Homo sapiens: one gene and its partner. The protein of the gene in region 1 interacts with the protein of each later gene in a pairwise test. Each region holds a gene or a part of one and is shown in the gene's direction. Other genes may lie near its edges.

Region 1 (8,087 bases):
GATTGAACCTGGGAGGGAGAGGTTGCAGTGAGTGGAGATCACGCCACTGCACTCCAGCCAGGGCAACAGAATGAAATTCCACCTCAAAAAAAAAAGGTCGATTAGAAGAGGCTTCTCTTCCCGCAGGGCCCTCCCCTGCCCCTCTCTGTGCCCTGCAGCAGCCTCCTCTTTGGTACGTTCCACTCCCCAAGCCCTGCGTGGGCGTCCCACCCACCCCCCAGCTTCATTTTAATCTCTGCCCCTCCACACACCTCCCCACCCCCACCCCTGTCTATATATGAACGGCACTGGGTGGGAATTTCCCTATTGTTTTCTCGATTTCCTAGAGCAGCGTCTACTCGTGGTAGGTGCCCGACACTCACATGTTGAGTGAATGAGCAGATTCTCAAGGCTCCCAAGGGACTGACCCATCCAGGCAGACCCTTTCCAGTCTGGGATTCAGCACTCCCCATGGAGAGGCAGGGTTGGGCTGACAGCCTCCAGCCCTTGCTTGCCCCTGTTAGGTGTCAGCATGCAGCGGGCACCCAGCAGGTCCGACTCCCTTCTCTGCCCCTTTCCTCTCGGGCACTTTGCCATCCTCTGATTCCCTGACTCTCCACACAGCCAGGAGGGAGCCGGAGAAGCCACGACCCCCGTCCTGTGGCTGGCTTCCCAGAGAGAAGCTTGGGGCCCCTCCGTGGTGGGAAGCTCAGTGGGCTGCGATGGCAAAGGCTGAGATGGAGCCTGGGCCTGGCCCCCACCTCCTGCCTCCTCTCCCCAGGTGGGCCGAGCACCCCACAGATGGAGCCCATGTCCCTGCATGCGGTCAGCCGAAGGGTGTGAAAGGTGAAAAAGGGCCCTGTCCCCTGCACTCTGCCAGAGGCGGGGCCTGGACACGCTGCAGCACCCACTGGCCCAGGAGCCCTGAAGGCAGCCCTGGTGGGAAGAGGGTCTCCTGAATCGGCCTGGCAGGTGCAGGAGTCTGGGGAATCTGAGCCAGACAAGGAGGCCAGGGGTCGCTTCTGTACCCTCAGCTCCTAGCAGGGGCAGGCAAGGGCTCCAGAGACCGTTAGCCCAACCTCAACTCTCCAGGGACAGAGGTGAGGCCCAGATTGAGAGGGTCTGCCCGGGTGAGCCAGAGGCAAGGGGATTAGAAGCCACTCCCTTGACCTTCACCCAATATGCCAGCAGGGTCCCACCCTGCCTGGTGGGTCAGTCCCTCGGGGACCCTGAACACCCAGGCATTCATCCCACACATAATTACTGGGCACCTACCACGTGCCGGGCTCTGCTCCAGGAGCTGGGAAGCTGAGCGGGCCCAGGCAGAATGCCCCCTCTGTAATAAACAGAATAACAGATGGTATCTGCGGTGGGGTGGGGCCTCTTCACCCTTGGGGCCCCGAGAGGGTCCTTGCTCAACAGTGCCCCGTTGTCTCAGGGGATGGTCCAAGGCTCTTAGCCTGGCTAGCACCGGCCCACACACCCCACAGCTCGCTGCCACGTTGTGCTTCTGGCCCCACTGGCCATCCGCACTACCCACTGGCTCGCAGCCTCACCGGCTCACCGGGACCTCTGGGTGGAGTGTCGGCCACGCTCTGTGGGCATGCGTCCTCACAGGTGCGTATCTCAGTATCCTGGACACCAAATGCTTCGTCCACCACTGGACCTGGGGACCGAGCAGGGTGGCTCAGGGGACACTAGCTGGGACCATCTTTCACCCCTTGCTGGAGTCCAGTCCCCCAGGGTCGGCTGACATCTCCAAGATCCCAGCCCACTGGAAAGCACGTGATAACCCCAGGTGCCAGGTCCAGGCTGGCCGTGGGCCCCCAACAGCTGGGCGGATTCTGAGGGCAAGGTGTGGACCCCCAGCAGCTGGGCAGATTCTGAGGGCAAGGGTGTCTGTCTGCTCGGGCTTCTGTGTTCAGGCTTAGAACCCCCTCAGATGAAGGGCTCTAAATGGGCGGGAAGGTGGGGCTGAGGGGGCAGCCACTCATTTGTGGCCATCAGGCAGATCCAGCTTCGGGGAGGTTCCGCAAGGGCCAAGGTCCTGATATATTTGGTTACAGAAAAGGTGGGAATTCCAATCCCGCCCGCCGAGAACCACAGAACCTCACTGCCTCTGTAAAGCGGGGTTGGGCCCATCTACCTCGCAGGGAGCTGGGAGGAGAAAACGCACCCTGGGTGAGAGCATGGGGAAGCATCCTTCATTTGGGTCCAAGCTCAGATGCCACCTTCTTGGAGGGACCTTCCTGCGGAGGTCGCTGTTGAGCACATCCCCTGGCTCCATTTCCTGTGTGACTTGGACCTGCCTTAAATGATTTGTCCCAATATCCCTTTCCTACTTACAGCGACCGCACCTCCCGCCTGGCTGTGTGCTCCAGAGCATCTGGGGAATGACCGGGCCCTCCCCTCCAACAGGCCTAATTCAGTCCCCCATGCCAGGCAGGACCAGGGCACACGAGAATGGTGAAGTCCTGGGGCAACTGTCACCATGGCCTCTGCAGGCTCAGTGTCGGGAGACCCAGTTTCTGACCTGGATACACTGCTCACCTTTGAGGTCGGGGCCTAGAGGGACGGTGCCACGTTGGAGACAGGCCTCCAGGGACAGTGCCACGTTGAAGACGGGGTTCCAGGGACGGTGCCACGTTAGAGATGGGGTTCCAGGGACAGTGCCACGTTGAAGACGGGGTTCCAGGGACGGTGCCACGTTGGAGATGGGGTTCCAGGGATGGTGCCACATTGGAGATGGGCAAGTCTGGGCTAAGGGAGGAGGGCCCAGGGTGGCCAGGGCAGGGCCCAGTGAGGTGCTGCTCTGAGGAGGTGGAGAGTGGGCGCTTGGGCAGGGGACACTTGGAGAGTAAGGATGAGGTCCATCTGGGTACCCTGGGTATAGGGAGTGTTGTTGAAAAAAAGCCAAACACTATAAAATATTTGAAGATATTTATTCTGAGCAAATGTGAGGACTATGACCTGTGAAACCACCTCAGCAGGTCCTGAGAATATGTGAGCAAGGTGGCTGGGTAACAGCTTGGCTTTATACTTTTTTTTAAAATTTTCAGGTCTTTTCTGTAGAGACAGGGTCTCACCATGTTGCCCAGGCTGATCTCAAGCTCTTCAGCTCAAGCAATGCTCCCACCTTGGCCTCCGAGTATGCTGGGATTATAGGCAACAGTCACCATGCCCGGCCTGGTTTTACGGATTTTACAGAGACAGATGTTACAGGCCAAAACCATAAATCAACATATGTAAGATATACATTGGTTCAGCCTAGAAACAGGGTTGGCAGGGGCAGCTTCCAGGTCATAGGGGATTCAAAGATTTCCTGATTGGCAAGTGGTTGAAAGAGTTATGTTTTGCCTAAAGAGTTAAAGTGGGATTACTCACGCCTGTAATCCCAGCACTTTGGAAGGCTGAGGCAGGCAGATCACCTGAGGTCAGGAGTTCGAGACCAGCCTGGCCAACATGGTGAAACACCATCTCTACTAAAAATACAAAACATATATACACATATACATGTATATATATATACACATATACATGTATATATATACACATATACATGTATATATATACACATATACATGTATATATATACACATATACATGTATATATATACACATATACATGTATATATATACACATATATACACATATACATGTATATATACACATATATACACATATACATATATGTATATACATATATAGTGTATATATATACGTATATATATGTGTATATATACACTATATATGTGTGTGTGTGTATATATATATATACATACGTGTGTGTATATATACATATTAGCCAGGCGTGGTAGCACGCGCCTGTAATCCCAGCTACTTAGGAGGCTGAGGCAGGAGAATCGCTTGAACCCAGGAGGTAGAGGTTGCAGTGAGCCGAGATCATGCCACTGCACTCCAGCCTGGGCCACAGAGCGAGATTCTGTCTCAAAAAAAAAAAAAAAAAAAAAAGAGTTGACGTGAGTGGACAAAAGGTGCCCGACCTCCTAAGGGAAGGAGCTTCTCTAGAAAACGCGAATTTCGCCCCCTCAAGAGACAGCTGTGCAGTGCCATATCAAAACATGTGAAAGGAATGTATTTTAGGGTGGAATACTTTGCCTGCCTTCGGGCCTGCTGTCTGCCACGTGAGGCTGTGCCAGTGTGAGGCTGGAATTTGGGATCTGGAGGCTAGAGCCATCGGTGAGGCCTGAGTCTCTAAGCACAGCGCCCAGAGGGAGAGGGCGGAGCGGGTCCGACCCCCTTTGCGGCAGGGCCTGAGCTGGTTTTCCAGGTTTCTCTGGAAGCCCTGTAGAGGAGCGGAGGGTCCATTCGGTGGGCTGGGGACTTTGAATTTAACCTTGGTTTGCAAGAGGCTTCCAGAGAGGATGTCTGGGAGCGTCTCGGAGGGGGACGAGGGGGCGCCGGGAGGAGCAGGTGCAGGAGCCCACGGCGCAGCGCCCCGCGCAGGCCTGGACGCGGGGACGGCCGCGGCGGCCGGGACAGGGGTCACCCCGCGGGGCCCTCCAGGGTGGGCCGCCCCACGACCCCAGGCCAGGCCGAAACGGGAATCCTCCAGACCCCAGAAGCTGGGCCGGGCTGACCCCGCGGGCGCGAGCGGCGGGAACTGTAGGCGCGGCAGGCGCACCACCACCCCGCCCCCCGCCCGGGCGCTGTGCGCGTGCGCCGAGGTTGCCCCGCCCAGGCCAGGCCCCGCTCCGCCCCGCCCCGCGCACGCCGGCCGCGCCCACGTGACCGGTCCGGGTGCAAACACGCGGGTCAGCTGATCCGGCCCAACTGCGGCGTCATCCCGGCTATAAGCGCACGGCCTCGGCGACCCTCTCCGACCCGGCCGCCGCCGCCATGCAGCCCTCCAGCCTTCTGCCGCTCGCCCTCTGCCTGCTGGCTGCACCCGCCTCCGCGCTCGTCAGGTGAAGCCTCAGGGGCCGGGGCTCAGGGACGGGCAGGGGTCGCGGCGCCGAGGTCCCGGGGCCTGTGGTGACTTTCGCGCTCCCCTGTGGCCCCCACGAGCCCCTTGCGCCCCCCGCGCTGGAATGCACCTGTGCCGCCCTGCGCGGCCTCCTGCACGGACCACCCGCCTACGGGGCGCCGGGCTCCGGAGGTGCAGGGGACCCGGGGCAGAGGCGCCAGATGCCTCTCCCCCATATGCCACCCTGGGTTGTACCTTGAGGACTGCAGACTGACCGCAGCCTCCCTGGAGACGGGGCGGGGCGGGGGGAGGTAGTGCTCATTCGGGGCAGGTGGAATTGGGGTCTGTACTGAGCGCCCTTGTTGCTGGAGACCTAGGTCAGGCCTCAGAGCCCCCGAGTCTGGGCGAGTCCATTTCCTTAGGGACCCCTTTACCACCTGTGAACTGGGGGCTTTAAAAGTTTGCTCCAGCGGCTCTTATCACAGGCCCTGGGCTGGGAGACCCCTCGAGACCCTAGGAGTTCCCATGTCCCTGAGAGAGGAGGAGGCATGGGGAGTGGGTCGGCTCACCCACCCCGGGCCTGGGGTTGTGCTGTAGTGAGGCCCACACGCTCCTCAGGCCGATCCCCTGTGCCAGGTGAGGCCACCGATTGGGCCTGGATGGGATGGGGCCCGGCCATGCCTGACCAGCTGGGCAGAGGAGGGCCATGCTGCAGTCTGCTTTCTTGACCCCCTCCCCAGCCCTTGCAAGGCAGCCCGCATTCCCAGGAGGGGTATGCTGACCCATCCCATTGGGCACCTGCCCCACCCTTGCTCTGGGCCTTTGTGGGAGACCTGGGATCTGCGATGGGTCCACTGCCTTTTGGCAGGTGGGTGAGGTCAGAAGGCTGCAGGGGCTGGAGCTGGCTGGGCCAGCTGGGTAGGACTGAGCCTCACCAAAGGCTGTGGGGAATGGCCCGGGGGCGGGTAGCCCCAATTAAAGTCGTTGTGGGGGAGTAGCCACAAGCCTGAGCCTGCCTTGACCTTGCCAGCCTATCCACAGGCCTCCCCTCTCCAAGGAGGACAGACACAGCAGAGGGGAAACGATCCTGGGGCTTCTTGGAGGGAAGGGTAGCTGAATCCAAGCCCTCACCCGATTCCAGCTCTTGTGCGACTGATACTATTACACCTGCTTCCTGGTCCCTGGAGGGCGTGTCCCTCCCCCAGGACAAAACCTGGAGCTCTTCCAGCCCACCAGCTCTTAGGCAATAATCTCATCTTCCGGGATCACGCCCCTGACAAGCCAGGAAAAGCCAGCTATGACCTTGTACTCTCAAGTCCCTGGGGCAGGGAAGAGGTTTTATTTAAGTGATTAAAAGCCCAGGGGAGCTTCCTTGGAACAAGGAGTGGGTTCACACCAAGGGGAAGGCCAGTGGCCCTGGGGGAGGAGCAGGGACCCCTCTCTCTCTTACTCGCTTCCTGGGTTTAGAACTCAGGACCCCGATCTCAGTCTGGAGCTCCCTCCTGCACCCTGGCTGGCGGTGTGCTGGGTGACAGGACTCTGGAGGGGTACCCTGAGTGCAGCTGTCGGAGGAGGCAGGGCGGTGGGGGGGGCAGCACAGAAGCCTCTAAGGCCCCAGGTGCAGTCCTGGACCTCGTGGAGCCGCATGGAGTGAGGAGAGGTGCGGATGCCCAGAAACAGATGTGGGATGAGGGCACTGGGCAGCCACAGGGTCCATGTGGAGGAGGACAGGTAGTCAAGGAGGGCTTCTGGAGGTGGTGTGGAGGGCCCATCTGATGGCCAGAGGAGGCCAGGCAGAGCTGCCAGTGCCAGCCTGGAGGTGGGGCCACCTTCGTGCAGGTGTCTGGGGGTGGAGAGCAGGTGTGATGGGGGCTGGGTACAGTGGGCTGCCTCAGAGCACTTTGGGCAGGAGTGACAGGTACCCGCCAGCACCCTGAGCAGCCATGCTGGCCACCATCCTGGAAGAGACCAGCGCAGGTGCAGAGGGAGGACGGGAGACCCTTGGGGGCTTTGGAGCCTCCAGAATGGCTGAGGAGAGGAGGGTTGGGCACACTGGCCCCCAGGTTGGGTGTGTGGGGCTGAGGTGGGTGGCGGGTGACCACTTCTTAGGACTGTGGCCTGTGCAACCTGGCGGGGGGCAATGGGTTGCCATTCACTGACTTGGGGGAGCTGGGCCAGCAGTTTCCAGGTGACAGGCAGGAGTTTGGTTTTGGCTGTGGCGACTCTGAGATTCCCCAGGGGCCTCCAGGTGGATGTGCAGCATTGGCAGCGTCGGCCGGCAGGCGGGAGGGCCTCCCTGATATGCCCCGACCCGTGGTTGACAGGATCCCGCTGCACAAGTTCACGTCCATCCGCCGGACCATGTCGGAGGTTGGGGGCTCTGTGGAGGACCTGATTGCCAAAGGCCCCGTCTCAAAGTACTCCCAGGCGGTGCCAGCCGTGACCGAGGGGCCCATTCCCGAGGTGCTCAAGAACTACATGGACGTGAGTATGAGGTCTTAGCCCTGCTGCAAGCGGAGCCACTGTCAGGAGAGCTCCGTGGCAGTATGGGGAACATTCCCACCTCCTGTTCTCAGCAGCGCAGTTTGAGTGGCTCACCTGGCCACGGTGGCGTCCCGGCTCAGCCACACTCCTTTCTTCCCCATTCTGGAACCTCCTGCCACTGGCCCCTGTCATTGCAGGGTCTTGGTCCTGCTAGGGCCTGGGAGGGTGATTGGGAGTGGCCTCGGGCCTTGGTGCCAGCTCGCCTGAGGGGGCGGTCCTTGGGCCTGCCTGAGTGTGGCCGGCTGACCTGGAGCCTTTCACTGCTGTCCTGCTGGGAGGCCTGTGGTGACTCGTGGCCTCCCCAGCCCCTCCCCATCTTCTTCCTCTCGCAACAGCCCCTCCTGTGCCCACTACTCCTTCAGGGGGAAGCAGGATCCAAGGTGGAGCACTCTGGAAGCCACCTAGCAAGCTGGGGCTTGGTCAGCCTGGTCCCAGCTCTATGGGGTCAGTTCGAGGCCAGGGCCTACTGTCCAGCCTCGGGGCTCTGGCCCACTGTGGGGGAGCCTTGCCCTCTGTCCTGCTTGGCCCGAGTCCTGGCTGTGACAGGAAGCCCAAGACTCACAGGCATGTGACTGGGCCAGGGGGGCCCTGGGGGGAACCAGGCGCCGTGTGCCTGGTCCCGACTGGCCAGTTCCT
Region 2 (6,883 bases), on another chromosome or scaffold:
TTGATGAAGAGTGGAGAGTCATGCAGAAATATAATAGGACAAAAAGAAGACTGTCAGCTAAGGGTAAAACAGAAACCTAGCAAGGTCTTTTTGTTCAGATTTCTCTCAGACTCTCTAGGACTCATGAGGGTCCTATGACCTGTTTCAGGGGAGAAGAGTTGGGAAAAATCAGAGAGACCTTCCTGCCCACGATGCTTCTCATATTCTTTCACCCATGAGGGTCCTATGACCTGTTTCAGGGGAGAAGAGTTGGGAAAAATCAGAGAGACCTTCCTGCCCACGATGCTTCTCATATTCTTTCACCTTAAAATATTCAGTATGTCAAGGGGCCATATTTTGAGATAGTATGTTCTGAATGCCATCAAGATACACACTGCTGAGGGTAGATGGGAGATAGTAACTTCTTGGTTCTTTTCAGAAATTATTTACTGCAGGAGTGACAAATACAATAGTAGCAGCTACTCAAATCAGAGCCTAAAAATGATGTTACTTCTCTAGTGGTGAGGTGGTGTTCTTCAGCTTTTCAGGCCAGGAATTTACACCAATCAGTTTCCTTTGAAGTGACCTATGTCTCAGGGATACAATGGATTCAGGAAAGTGTGGCCCTCGTTAGCCAGCCAATTTCCTATGTTCCAATTAAAGAACATACTTATCAAGGTGCAGAAGTTCATCTGAAAACAGGGCTGTGATTTGGAGGTATATGAGGGAAACCTAGTCAACAAATGGATGGAAAATAAATGTAGCAAGGTTAGCAAAGTTAATAGGAAACTTGGGAAGAAAAAAGAGTAAAAAAGTACTAAGCACTTCTCATGTGAATTTCTAGGTTTCCTTACAACTCAACACATCTGACCATTAAATGGGGCACTCCTAGTTCCAGTGAGGGCATGAGACAGTCCCTGGAAAATATGAGACACGTTGCTTGAACTGGCAAGCAACGATAGGGAAATCAAACAGCCACAGGCAGTAGGATGTCTTCAAAATGCTTCAGAGGAAAACAATGGCTTTAAAGATGGGATTGAACTGTTCAAAGAGTATTATTTACACTGCCAGACAAAGAAGCCCATTTCACATCAAATGCTAATTATTCCAGGCCTTAGGACTCTGGGCTTTAAATGTGGGCAGGACCAAAGGCACCTTCCCTATCACTTCAACCAGAGGCTTAGCCACAGCTAATATTTAGGGGGTCATTCTCTGTGCAGACACGGTCCTAAGTGCTTTAGCTGTGTTCTTTGATTCGTCACTCCAGCAATGTCATGCAGTAGTTACTAATTATTATTCCTGTTTGGAATAAACAGGTAAGGAAGCGCTTACAAAAGAATTAGATAAATTGCCCAAACTTAGGATTGAAACAATCAGTCAGGACTGTATCACTTCCTGAGTGATGTCCCCCTTAATCCATGCTTGAATATTTCATGAATATATAATTTAAAATGTATTCAAAATTAGCTTTGGGGAGCAAGAAATGAATGCCTTAGTTATATTTGGGGCTTAGAGAATTTTCTTCACAAATTCCATTACAAATTTACTTTGAGACTAGCCTGGGCAACACAGTGGGACCCTGGCTCTACAAAAATCATTAAAAAAAAAAAAAAATTCAGTGGGTGTGATGGTGCGTGCCTGTAGTGCCAGCTCCTTGGGAGACAGGTGGGAACACTAGCCAGGGAGGTTGAATGCAGTGAGCTGTGGTTGTGTCACTACACCTCAGTCTGGATGACAAAGTGAGACCCTGTCTCAAAACAAAAAATTTAAAGCAAATTTTGGTCACTTAATGTTCACAGTAAGCTGCTATGTGGGTATTTGCAGATAATGACATGTAGGTAATAGATAGAAAATAAGATCTTAGAGCTCACATTTACACTGACAATGCCCATGTTTTCCCCACCACAATACAGTGCTCAGAAAAGTTAAACTTGCTGCCAGGTGATCTTTAGGGCCCAAAGGTCACCATTAATATTATTTTATTTTTAAAAGAAACTTTTGCTGGTGTAAGGACTTTGCTGTGCAACAAAGAATATGTGTATCTCCTGACCAGTTTTCTTTTATTACAATTGAGCCTAAATTTCCTGACTCCTCTGACAGCAACTAGGCTCCTGCTTGGGATGGTCTCTAACAAACAGTGGGAAGTAATCCTTAGAATCAGAGTAGATTCAAATCTCAGTTTTATTTATGTGTAAGGGGCTAGTTACTTAACCTTAATTCTTGAGGTCATTCACCTGTAAAAGAGGAGCTTCCATTTCACAGCTGACTGTAGGAAAAAAAAAATCAATGAATGAAATAATGCATTCTAAGGACTACCACACAAATGTTAATTCCTTGTAACCCTCCTCTCTTAAAATGAATTTTCAAGAAAGGGAGTAGCTGTGGACAAAGTCGTTCCAGGACACGGAGGAGGAGGTTTAGGGAGAACACAGTCCTTGGAGCCTTAAAAAGGCTTACAGATAAAAGCGTCTGAATGTAGCACCGGGAATTTTCATTTCTTTGCTCCAACTTCAGGCTATCCTGTTGCCTGTTCTTTGTCTTAAACCTCAATATGTTCAGCTAAGAAGATGGTAGAGTTCCTGATCTTGCCAAGAGGTAATATGTATAGCTACGTGAAGTAATCCAGTAATTATAAACTCAGTAAAATTTGTAGAGAAATCAGTGGACTTGCAAGGGGGATATGAGAACGTCTGGTAGCGATCTGCCATGGTTTAGAAATGCAACCAACAGAGGTGATTTCCTCCATCATATGCCGCTCCAACCATTTGCAAGCTAACAACGAACTAAAAGACGAGTTTCGCTTTCTCAGACCTTATTTTAGATTTAAGACTACCCCAAACTTGATTTCCACCCGGCTACTCCAAATCAAGGGCAATAGGATGATAAAGTGAAACTAAAAACGAAAACAAAATTTTAAGATGGTGGTGTGCGGGGAGAAGAAAAGTGGGGATCAATCTAGAACACGATTTTTCCTTAGCTGCTGAGTGAAATGTGTCATATTAAGCTGCATACGAGCTTACTCCTTGGTGACGCTTACAATCTATAGGGGAAAAAACAACGAACCTGGATTTTTTTTTGAGATGTCTCGCTCTTATACCCCAGGTTTGAGTGCAATGGCTCTATCTGGGCTCACTGCAACCTCCGCCTCCTGGGTTCAAACGATTCTCCTACCTCTGCCTCCCAAGTAGCTGGGATTAAGTTGCCTGCCACCACTCCCGGCTAATTTTTGTATATTTTAGTAGAGACAGGGTTTCACCATGTTGGCGAGGCTGGTCTCGAACTCCTGACCTCAGGTGACGCGACCGCCTCGGCCTCCCAAAGTGCTGGGATTACAGGCGTGAGCCACTGCGCCCGGCCGAACTTGGATGTTTCAGTAAACCCTTACTATCCCATGTGTTGCTTAGCCATTTTACCTTGCCAATGCCAAGTCTGGAAAATTACAGATCTTTAAATGACAACATGGGTGGCTCTTAGAAGAGCCTTTGGGTCGTTAGCGCTTTTACCCAGGTAACTAGTTTACTTGGAGCTGGTGTACTTGGTGACCGCCTTGGTGCCCTCCGACACCGCGTGTTTGGCCAGCTCCCCGGGTAGCAGCAGGCGCACAGCCGTTTGGATCTCCCTGGAAGTGATGGTCGAGCGCTTGTTATAATGCGCCAGGCGGGAAGCCTCGCCTGCAATGCGCTCGAAAATGTCGTTGACGAAGGAGTTCATAATCCCCATAGCCTTGGACGAGATGCCGGTGTCGGGGTGGACCTGCTTCAGCACCTTGTACACGTACACGGAATAGCTCTCCTTGCGGCTGCGCTTGCGCTTCTTGCCATCCTTCTTCTGTGCCTTGGTCACCGCCTTCTTGGAGCCCTTCTTCGGGGCGGGAGCTGACTTAGCTGGTTCAGGCATGTTCGCAGCCGAAGTGATACCGTCAAATGACCACAGGAAAATGCTGGTGAGCCCAAACGCCCTCATTATTTACCTCGTGTATATGCAAATGAGGCTGGCTGAGTTTCGGTTTCTCATTGGTTCTTTTAGTGTCTGAATATATGATAGGCCATTTCTGAACTCCTAAATCTCATCGGCTCTCCCAGAAGCTCAACCTTGCATAATTTGACCTTTCAACTATAAGTATGTAAGTCAGAAGTGGTTTTTTTTTTTTTTTTTTTTTTAAATTTTTTTAAACACCTGCTTTTCGATTGGCTGAAATCTGTGTTCAGGAGATAGCACAGTCTACTTTGCCGAATATAGATTATAAGAGTTTAGCTCTTGCGTTTTACTAGAATCAATCACTTTCCTTCTTCTAAACAAGTATTTAAATACTTCACTGCGTCTGGATGTGGAATGCAGGGCAGCAAAGCTCGCGCCAAGGCTAAAACGCACTCTTCCAGGGCTGGTCTCCAGTTTTCTGTGGGCCGAGTGCACCGCCTCCTCCGCAAGGGCAACTACGCCAAGCGGGTCCGGGCCGGTGCGCCGGTGTACCTGGAGGCGGTGCTGGAGTACCTGACCGCCAAGATCCTGGAGTTGGCGGGCAACGCGGCCCGAGACAAGAAGACCCGCGTCACCCCCCGACGCCTGCAGCTCGCCATCCACGACGAGAAGCTCAACAAGCTGTTGGGCAAAGTTACTATCGCGCAGGGCGGTGTCCTGCCCAATATTCAGGCCGTGCTGTTGCCCTGTCTATACAAGTGACTGACTAGGCAAACAGGACTAATGAGAAAATGTTTAATATCTCAAGTAAGTGCTTTAATGTAGTCGGGAAGAAGCAAGTTCAGTAACGTTTACAAAACCTTGTAAAGTTTAGATGGACAGGGCCACTGCAGTGTTCAAGTTATCCTGCAGAAGAGGCTAGTGGGGGTGGTATCCTGGAATATCATCAATAGGACCCAACGAAAAGTAAATGATAAGAGTCGTTGGAAAACCTAAAATTAGCCTGTGCCTTAAAAATTCTCAACCGAAGCAAAACACCATTTGGGACAAAATAGAATTCAGTTAACATTTGTTGCTCACTGTTGTATGTCGGTGACTTCTTGGCTCGTGATTTCCCAGGTACATCACCCAGGAATCCTGCCTTATAATGGTCAAAGGTTTCCAGCTAGCAGCAGTCCAGGTGACTCAAGAAAACGGCACAAGATAAACTTCTCAAAACGTGGTCCTCCGAATCTGGCCCCACAACACATCTACTGAATGAGAATTAGCGTCTTCCAAGTCTTAAAGTAGTCGTTTACGGACTACAGCTTGAGAAGCGCAGAATTAGAACTTTAAGAAGTTAACGTTCTTGGATCGCAGACTAACCGAGAAGAGAGGATTCAAAAATGAAGTGATTCATCCAATCAGATTTTCCAGTAATTCACCAATCACATCGTTGGACTCTTCAGCCAATGGTTTTGTTGCGCGGGTCTTTTGAAAATCAACAAGGCCAATTAGAATGTTTCTGAGTATATATAAGGGCAGTTTCCACTCTGCCAAGTGGCTGAGTTTTTCTTTCAGGTAGTCTGAGATGGCCCGCACCAAGCAGACTGCACGCAAGTCCACCGGTGGCAAAGCGCCGCGCAAGCAGCTGGCCACTAAGGCGGCTCGGAAAAGCGCGCCGGCCACCGGCGGCGTGAAGAAACCTCATCGCTACCGTCCCGGCACCGTGGCTCTGCGCGAGATTCGCCGCTATCAGAAGTCGACTGAGCTGCTGATCCGCAAGTTGCCTTTCCAACGCCTGGTGCGAGAAATCGCTCAGGACTTCAAGACAGATCTGCGCTTTCAGAGTTCCGCGGTGATGGCCCTGCAGGAGGCCTGCGAGGCCTACTTGGTGGGGCTCTTTGAGGATACCAACCTGTGTGCCATCCATGCTAAGCGAGTGACTATCATGCCCAAGGACATTCAGCTCGCTCGCCGCATTCGTGGGGAGAGAGCGTAGAGGTTTCCGGGCAGTAATTCTATCCAACTTAAAAAGGCTCTTTTAAGAGCCGCCTACTTTCACCCGAAAATAGCTGTGATTAACTAATCAAATCTTTGAAACTAAACATTGGTTTTAGTACTTAAGTCCTCATTTGATTGGCTAAAGTTAATGGTAAGCTTGCTATATTTGTTCCCGTGCTTTTTCCCGAAAGTGCCAGATTGTCAGCGTCCTTTTCTAAACTGGCTTTTAGGGGTTTGGAGCTTCGATTTGGTAGTGGAAGGGGCCACCTGGGGGCGTTTATATACATTGTCTCAAGCGTTAGTCGCGTTGTCTACTTACACCCATTATAGATGGGATTTTTTTTCGTTGTGTATTTCTGGTTAATCCCTTTTAAAACTTTACAGGTATGAGCATTGGCAGTTGAGAGTAGGTAGGGATATCCTTGGTTGCTGCTTTTTCGTGTCTGAAGCAGCTATTTCCACAATTCCCCCTTTTTTTAAACAGTTCTTGGTTTTTCTGTGAAATGATCCATTTTTTAATTCAATATTAGAAATTGGCGGCAGAAACGAAAGCCAGATTGGCCTCTACATTACTGGCAGCATGGGCATTACGTGGGAACTTGTTAGAAGCTCCCAGGGCATTACATGGGAGCTTGTTTCAATCCCCATCTAGGGCTGGAGTCAATCTGCATATACCTCAGATGATTCTCATGAACACTGATTTAGGAAGCCTAGGTTGTTGGTTTTGGTCTCATCAGTAAAGGCATCCTGCCTGTGAACTCTTACAAGGAGTGAGCTTTTGCAAAATGCATGTTTATTTATGTTACAGAATGAAATATTCTATGAAATGTTCTCTAAAGCAAGTGCACAGAACAATCCCCTAAAATAGTTTGATTTCTTTACAGATCAGTTTTCTCAATGTAACATTACAGTCACATGGGAAGGCTTTAGAAAAATCTTTACCTGGGGTTCAATGAGACTAATAGCAATCTAGAGTGGGCCCAGGGAATGGTAATTATTAAAA

The links. Proteins that work in one complex are often made in the same cells at the same time.
Region 2: the proteins of CTSD (region 1) and H3C8 interact in binary tests that used the Homo sapiens proteins (3 or more experiments, as listed by UniProt).

What each region holds. Positions count from the first base shown.
Region 1 is NC_000011.10:1,760,613-1,768,699, reverse strand, and holds the start of CTSD (cathepsin D preproprotein), read left to right. Parts: upstream 1-4,772; 5' UTR 4,773-4,840; coding exon 4,841-4,908; intron 4,909-6,213; exon of another isoform or gene 6,214-7,231; coding exon 7,232-7,391; intron 7,392-7,505; exon of another isoform or gene 7,506-8,087. UniProt on the Homo sapiens protein: Acid protease active in intracellular protein breakdown. Plays a role in APP processing following cleavage and activation by ADAM30 which leads to APP degradation.
Region 2 is NC_000006.12:26,269,969-26,276,851, reverse strand, and holds H3C8 (histone H3.1), read left to right. Parts: upstream 1-5,438; 5' UTR 5,439-5,467; coding exon 5,468-5,878; 3' UTR 5,879-5,934; downstream 5,935-6,883. Other genes in the region: H2BC10 (histone H2B type 1-C/E/F/G/I), read right to left, coding at 3,496-3,876. UniProt on the Homo sapiens protein: Core component of nucleosome. Nucleosomes wrap and compact DNA into chromatin, limiting DNA accessibility to the cellular machineries which require DNA as a template.